2 linked regions of the Homo sapiens genome follow. The protein of the gene in region 1 purifies or fractionates together with the protein of each later gene. This does not show direct contact. Each region holds a gene or a part of one and is shown on either strand. Other genes may lie near its edges.

Region 1 (3,500 bases):
CTAGTTTCTTGTTTGTTTGTTTGAGACGGGGCCTCACTCTGTCACCCAGGCTGGAGTGCAGTGACATGATCTTGGCTAACTTCAACCTCTGCCTCCCAGGTTCAAGTGATTCCCCTGCCTCAGCCTCCCGAGTAGCTGGGACTAAAGGCATGCGCCACCATGCCTGGCTAATTTTTATATTTTTGATAGAGACAGGGTTTCACCATGTTTGCTAGGCTGGTCTCAAACTCCTGGCCTCAAGTGATCCACTCACCTTGGCCTCCCACAGTGCTGGGATTATAGGCGTGAGCCACCACGCCGGGCCTAATTCCCTAGTTTCTTAATTTCTCTGAGCCACCTTTCTTGCTATTGATCACTACCTCACAGCCTTACTCTGCTTTTCTAGCCCCTGACAGCTATCTAGGTCTTTTCTTTATCACAATCTAAGGTTGGCATCAGTCTTTATTCCCGTAGAATAGATGGGTTTATGGCTGAAGGTGACGGCTCTGCGGTGTGGAGTGTCAGGAGAGTTGCCAAGAGGGCTGCAAAGACACCAGACGAAGCCTGTGCTGAGCACAGTGGGAGGGGCCTGAGGCTGGTTTCCCCATGTGTTTGAAGGGTGATGTTTCTGAATCTAAAGTAGCTGATAACCAGTTGTCTTGCTCTTCTTCCAGAACTCCATCCGCCACAACCTTTCCCTGCACGACATGTTTGTCCGGGAGACGTCTGCCAATGGCAAGGTCTCCTTCTGGACCATTCACCCCAGTGCCAACCGCTACTTGACATTGGACCAGGTGTTTAAGGTGAATGCCCTGCTTTCCTCTAAATAGGGCCTAAGTTGGAGGTTGTCATAGCCATCTCAAAAGGAAACAAGTTCTGCTAGTGATGCTTTCATTTGATCAGGGGAGAGTTAGAAGCCAGCCACCCAATTAGTGACTTGCACAAAACCCAGTGAATTAAGTACACTTGACAAATACCAAATGACACATTTTTGTGCCAGACCAGAGCAAGGAGAAGGCTGTTCTGACCCAACAGAAAGGGCTCCCCAGGGCAGTGTTTTCCTAACTTCCCTGTGAATGGGAATTGCCTGGGACATTGTTAAAACACAGCTTCCCAGACCCCTCTCTTGGGGCTCTTGATTTAGTGCTTCTGGGATGGGCCCAGGAATTTGTATTTTTAGCAAGCATCTCAGGTGATTCTTACAAGAAATTCTGGGAATGCTTGCTCTAAAAAAAGCCCTTCCTGCTGGGTGTGGTGGCTCACGTCTGTAATCCCAGCACTTTGGGAGGCTGAGGCAGGTGGATCACCTAAGGTCGGGAGTTGGAGACCAGCCTGACCAACATGGAGAAACTCCGTCTCTACTAAAAATACAAAAATTAGCTGGGTGTGGTGGCGCATGCCTGTAATCCCAGCTACTTGGGAGGCTGAGGCAGGAGAATCCCTTGAACCCAGGAGGCGGTGGTTGTGGAGAGCTGAAATCGCACCATTGCACTCCAGCCTGGGCAATAAGAGTGAAAGTCTGTCTCAAAAAAAAAAAAAAAAAAAAAAAAAAGCCTGCCTTAGGCTGGAGACCAGAAGCTGAGCTACCAGAACGTCTTTTCAGAAAGAAGTTATTTTGGTTTTTCAGAGTGCCCATAAGGCTGCTGGTAGCTGTAACCATTCTCCTGGGAGGGGCAGTTGTCTGGGGTGTCTTTTGTCATCAGTCAGGAATAAGTGTTTTTCCCAATCCGGTCAAATTGACCACGTTGGTGGTAACTTCATCTCATTTCTCTCCCACAATGCCTGGCCGCCACCAGCCACTGGACCCAGGGTCTCCACAATTGCCCGAGCACTTGGAATCAGTAAGGTTCTTTCCCTCTGGCTCGGGGCTTGGCCTTGTTTTCCTTTCACTGCTCAGCATGGCTTTAGTGGACAGAGACAAGATGTGATGTGGGGAAGGGTCCCTATGGCCATGTTTTGTCTAGGTGCCAGCCCTAGACACAGAACACCCTGAGGGTCAGGCACACACCCACTTCCCTCCCCTTCCATGGGCATCACAAGGGCACACTGAGCAGAGCAGGGCACAGCAGGGGAGCATGCTGCAGCAGCCACAAGCGCATGGCACCAGCCTCAGGGGCGGCAGTTCGTTCGCTCACTTTTGTGCCTAGCTTTTCTTTGCCACGCATATAGCTACCTGCTCTGGCATCCCCCAGGGGTGTTGAGGACACGTGGGTGAAGCGGTAGTGCCACTCTGCCATCATGTGTCTGTAGGCCACCCACCTGCCCACTCATCACAGTTTTGGAGACTGCTCGCCTACGTCCATCCCCTCAGGTTGGCCTCCTCTCTCTGGGCTGTCATTAACTCAAGCACACACCACCAGAGCAGCTGGTGGGGTTTTGCCATCCCCTCTTTACCTTATTGTGTTAACATAGGTTTCTTTCTCTCCCCATCTGCCACAAGCAGCAGCAGAAACGACCGAATCCAGAGCTCCGCCGGAACATGACCATCAAAACCGAACTCCCCCTGGGCGCACGTTAGTATGGGAGAGTGGGCCTTGGGCCTGGTCCTTGTTCTGGGGCCATATCTTTAGGGAACCAGACTCTGGGATTCTGTTCCCACCTCAAAGGGATCTGAGCCCAGAGAAGGAGAGCAAAGCTCCTGGGGCTGAGAAGGGGTGTACTCCAGTCCCCCTGCTCCTGATCTCTCGTGTTTCCTCCTAGGGCGGAAGATGAAGCCACTGCTACCACGGGTCAGCTCATACCTGGTACCTATCCAGTTCCCGGTGAACCAGTCACTGGTGTTGCAGCCCTCGGTGAAGGTGCCATTGCCCCTGGCGGCTTCCCTCATGAGCTCAGAGCTTGCCCGCCATAGCAAGCGAGTCCGCATTGCCCCCAAGGTGGGTGTCCTATTTTCCTCTGAAGAGAGATTCTGGCCAATTAAGAATGTTGGACCTTCAGCTTGCAAAGCACTCTGATAAGTGTTCCTTGAGAGCTTATAAATCTAGTTGGGTAGAAAAGGCATAAAAACATAGGGAAGTGTAATAGCATTAGAAGAGCTAAAAAGGTATTTGGATTACAATGTAAGTGGTGTCAGAAGGCCCATAAATACCTGATGAGCTTGTAAGAATTCAGACAAAAGTGATTGTGATAGATGGGCTAGGATTATTAAGGAAGATACACAAGGGAGGCAGGCCTTAGAAAGAGATGGATTTGGCCGGGCGCTGTGGCTTACACCTGTAATCCCAGCACTTTGGGAGGCCAAGGCAGGTGGATCATGAGGTCAGGAGTTTGAGACCAGCCTGGCCAACGTGGCGAAACCCCGTCTCTACTAAAAAATACAAAAATTAGCTGGGCTTGGTGGCACATGCCTGTAATCCCAGCTACTTGGGAGGCTGAGGCTGGAGAATCACATGAGCCCAGGAAGGGAAGTTGCAGTGAGCCGAGATCACTGCACTCCAGCCTGGGTGACAGAGCGAGACTCTGTCTCAAAAAAAAAAAAAGAAAAGAAAGAAGTGGATTTGAGGCTAGACGCTGTGGGTCTC
Region 2 (3,500 bases), on another chromosome or scaffold:
CATCTCAGATCTTTTCACTTAAGCCTCTAAACTTAGAACCTGAGCTTTATGTAGAGAAAATATCAGTAACTCCCAGGGCAGCTGGAACCCATGTACTACAACACTCCTGCCTGCTCCTGGGTTAAATCCCAACAGCAACATAGCTAAGAACTGTGGGGACAACAGTGACTTTATTTTAAATACTAATTCAATGTGACTTCTGCCTATTCACTTTAAGTTTGGCCTTTCCTCCAAAACAGCCCTTGATATTATTGTATACATTATAGGCTGTGATGTCTGCAGCATTCTGTCAGCCACCCACACATTGATTCTAGAGCATGTATACTTTGCCCAAGAAAATGTATACATACCCAAGCCGTGGGTACGAGGGGTTACAGTGCAGAGATCTACATCTTACAGCCATCAAAGACCATACTTATGTCTGTAAATTCCCCCTCATCAGTCACCCAATACCAGCAAACTCCATTTATCTGCCTAATTCCTTGGTTTCTCAGCTCCTCTGCCACTTGAGGGGTTGCTTTGCATAAATGGCCTTGCACAGAACAAGAACGAAGCATCAAGAAACAGCACATTTACAGGCTGGGCGCGGTGGCTCACACCTATAATCCCAGCACTTTGGGAGGCCAAGGCGGGTGGATCATGAGGTCAGGAGATTGAGACCATCCTGGCTAACACGGTGAAACCCCGTCTCTACTAAAAATATAAAAAATTAGCCAGGCGTGGTGGCGGATGCCTGTAGTCCCAGCTACTCAGGAGGCTGAGGCAGGAGAATGGCGTGAACCCGGGAGACAGAGCTTGCAGTGAGCCGAGATTGTGCCACTGCACACCAGCCTAGGTGACACAGCGAGACTCTGTCCCAAAAAAAAAAAAAAAAAAAAAAGAAACAGCACATTTACTAAATTGAATCCTCCAAAGTTAGAACACAACTTTAAAAAGCACTAGAAAGATGGAAGAAGAAACTAAAAGCAGAAGGCTGCTCCTGGCAAAGAAGTCTTGCAGAAGAATCCTATAGAAAAAGGAGAGGCCAAAAAGGAGCAGGCAAGAGATGAACATGTCAGTGATGACATAAGACAACACATTAGAAACAACTGGGGGCTGGGTGCGGTTGCTCAGGCCTGTAATCCCAGCACTTTGGGAGGCCGGGATGGGTAGATCATCTAAGGTCAGGAGTTCGAGACCAGCCTGGCCAATATGGTGATACCTCATCTCTACTAAAAGTACAAAAATTAGCTGGGTGTTGTGGTGGGCACCTGTAATCCCAGCTGCTCGGGATGCTGAGGCATGAGAATCACTTGACCCGAGGCGGAGGCTGGACTGAGCCGAGATTGCACCACTGCACTCCAGCCTGGGCAACAGAGCAAGACCCTGTCTCAAAAAAACCAAAACCAAATAAAAATACAAAAAATTAGCCAGGCATGGTGGTGTGTGCCTGCAACCCCAACTACTTGGGAGGCCGAGGCAGGAGAATTGCTTGAACCCAGGAGACAGAGACTGCAGTGAGCTGAGACCGCACCACTGCCCTCTAGCCTGGGCGACAGTGTGAGACTCCATCTCAAAAAAACAAAACAACAACAACAAAAAAACTACGTAAATGTGGTAACAGTATAATTTATGTTACTATGTTTATGCTGCCATAAAGAGTGCTTGTATTTGTAGGGAAAGGGCAAATGCCATTAATAGAAAGTTTCAAAAGTGGGATCAAATTGAAGTGAACCAAAAAAGTAGCTTTTGAGTGTACTCCTTTTGGGCACAAATAATTTCACCAACAACTGGATGCACATCAGCCACACTAACACAAAATGCCTTGTGTTAGGGGTGGCTGTAGTCTTTGAGTATATTCTACATCCTCATCCACTTCCTGACCCGTTATCACCTAAAATGCAGAGTTTGGGACTTAACCATTCCAAACGTGGTGGAGATCGCATATATACATATCAAATTCAATCTGTGGATTTTCCTTTAGAAAGCGATAGTAGTATCCACCCTAACTTCGAACTTTCCTGCACAAAGTGACAAATAGACTCCATTGGTTTATTTAGTGACTTTTTATTATAGGTATTCCATGAAGGAGAATTTGAAAGTGCGATCTCTTAAGAAATGCTGCCCACGTCCTGCTTGTATTATTATAAACTATTGATGGAAAATACTTTCATAAAGTTAGATGCAGTTTAGAAAAAAAACGAATGATAATACTTACCTCAAGTTGTCTCAGATAAGCATAAATATCTTTCACATATTCACTACAAAGGTTTGGATCAGCTCCATCTTCTGCATCCACATCATTTACTGCAAGAATTACATCAGAGAAAGCCTGACACAGGTCTTCTTCTGCAGGGGCACATCCAGATGTTTCCATTGGGCTTGGAGAGGCAGTATCAACCTTGAAACAAAGAGATATCTTGAAATAGCAAATAGAAGTAAGCACTATAGTTTGGGCATGAAGTTCAGGTTATTGGTACCAACTCAAGCTAGTATTCTGCTGAATCGGCATACAATTCATTTCCTTAAAGGAAAAGTATCTTTTCAGATTTATTCCATTTCTTTTTAGGAAGTGATTAACATCAAAAGTGATCATTTGGGTTGGGCGCGGTGGCTCACACCTTTAATCTCAGCACTTTGAGAGGCTGAGGTTGAGGCTAGGAGTTCAAGACCAGCCTGGGCAACATAGCAAAACCCTGTCTCTGTTAAAAAAGAAAAAAGTGATCATTTAATTCCTCAATTAAAAAGAATGAGGTTGGGCATAACAGCTCAAGCCAGTAATCCCAGTACTTTGGGTGGCTGAGGTGGGAGGATCCTTTGAGACCATGAGTTCCAGACTAGCCTGGGCAATATAGCAATAACTCATCTCTACAAAAAATTAGCTGGGCATGAAGGCAGCTGCCTACAGTCCTAACTACTCAGGAGGCCCAGGCAGGAGGATCACTTGAGCCCAGGAGTTTGAGGATACAGTGAGCTATGATTGCGCCATTCTACTCCAGCCTGGGCAAAAAAAAAAACAGTGAAATGCCAACTTAGAGTGAGTCAGTTTAAAGTTGGAAGCAAATAAATTCACATTCTAGACTTTGCTGCAAAGGAAACTGAGAAGTAATTAATTTTTATCAGCAACATGTGAAGTTAGTCCAAATAAATGACAATTCAGTCTTTAGTCTTTATTTCATAATATAAACTGCTTCTCACTACTCAACACAAATTCTATCCTGACTACTAAGGATTAACTAACTTCATCGCCATTAACCATTTCCTTCAAGCTCCCTTTATCCCATTGTTCAAACATTTATTGAGCACCTTCTTGAAGTCAAACTCTACAAGGCATTGACTTCATGGCATCCTCAAAGGACTCTGAATTTAGTAGACAAAGTAAAGAAATAAGGTCGGGCATGGTGGCTCACGCTTGTAATCCCAGCACTTTGGAAGGCCGAGGCAGGCAGATCACGAGGTCAGGAGTTCGAGACCAGCCTGGCCAACATCGTGAAACTCCATCTCTACTAAAAATAAAAAAA

The links.
Region 2: the proteins of FOXM1 (region 1) and CCNB1 purify together in Homo sapiens (affinity purification with western blotting; 4 studies listed by BioGRID, with this or other methods). This does not show direct contact.

What each region holds. Positions count from the first base shown.
Region 1 is NC_000012.12:2,863,675-2,867,174, reverse strand, and holds part of FOXM1 (forkhead box protein M1), read left to right. Parts: intron 1-653; coding exon 654-782; intron 783-1,775; coding exon 1,776-1,820; intron 1,821-2,229; coding exon of another isoform or gene 2,230-2,290; intron 2,291-2,419; coding exon of another isoform or gene 2,420-2,422; coding exon 2,423-2,492; intron 2,493-2,679; coding exon 2,680-2,855; intron 2,856-3,500. UniProt on the Homo sapiens protein: Transcription factor regulating the expression of cell cycle genes essential for DNA replication and mitosis. Plays a role in the control of cell proliferation. Also plays a role in DNA break repair, participating in the DNA damage checkpoint response.
Region 2 is NC_000005.10:69,170,150-69,173,649, reverse strand, and holds part of CCNB1 (G2/mitotic-specific cyclin-B1), read right to left. Parts: intron 2,381-3,500; coding exon 2,198-2,380; intron 1-2,197. UniProt on the Homo sapiens protein: Essential for the control of the cell cycle at the G2/M (mitosis) transition.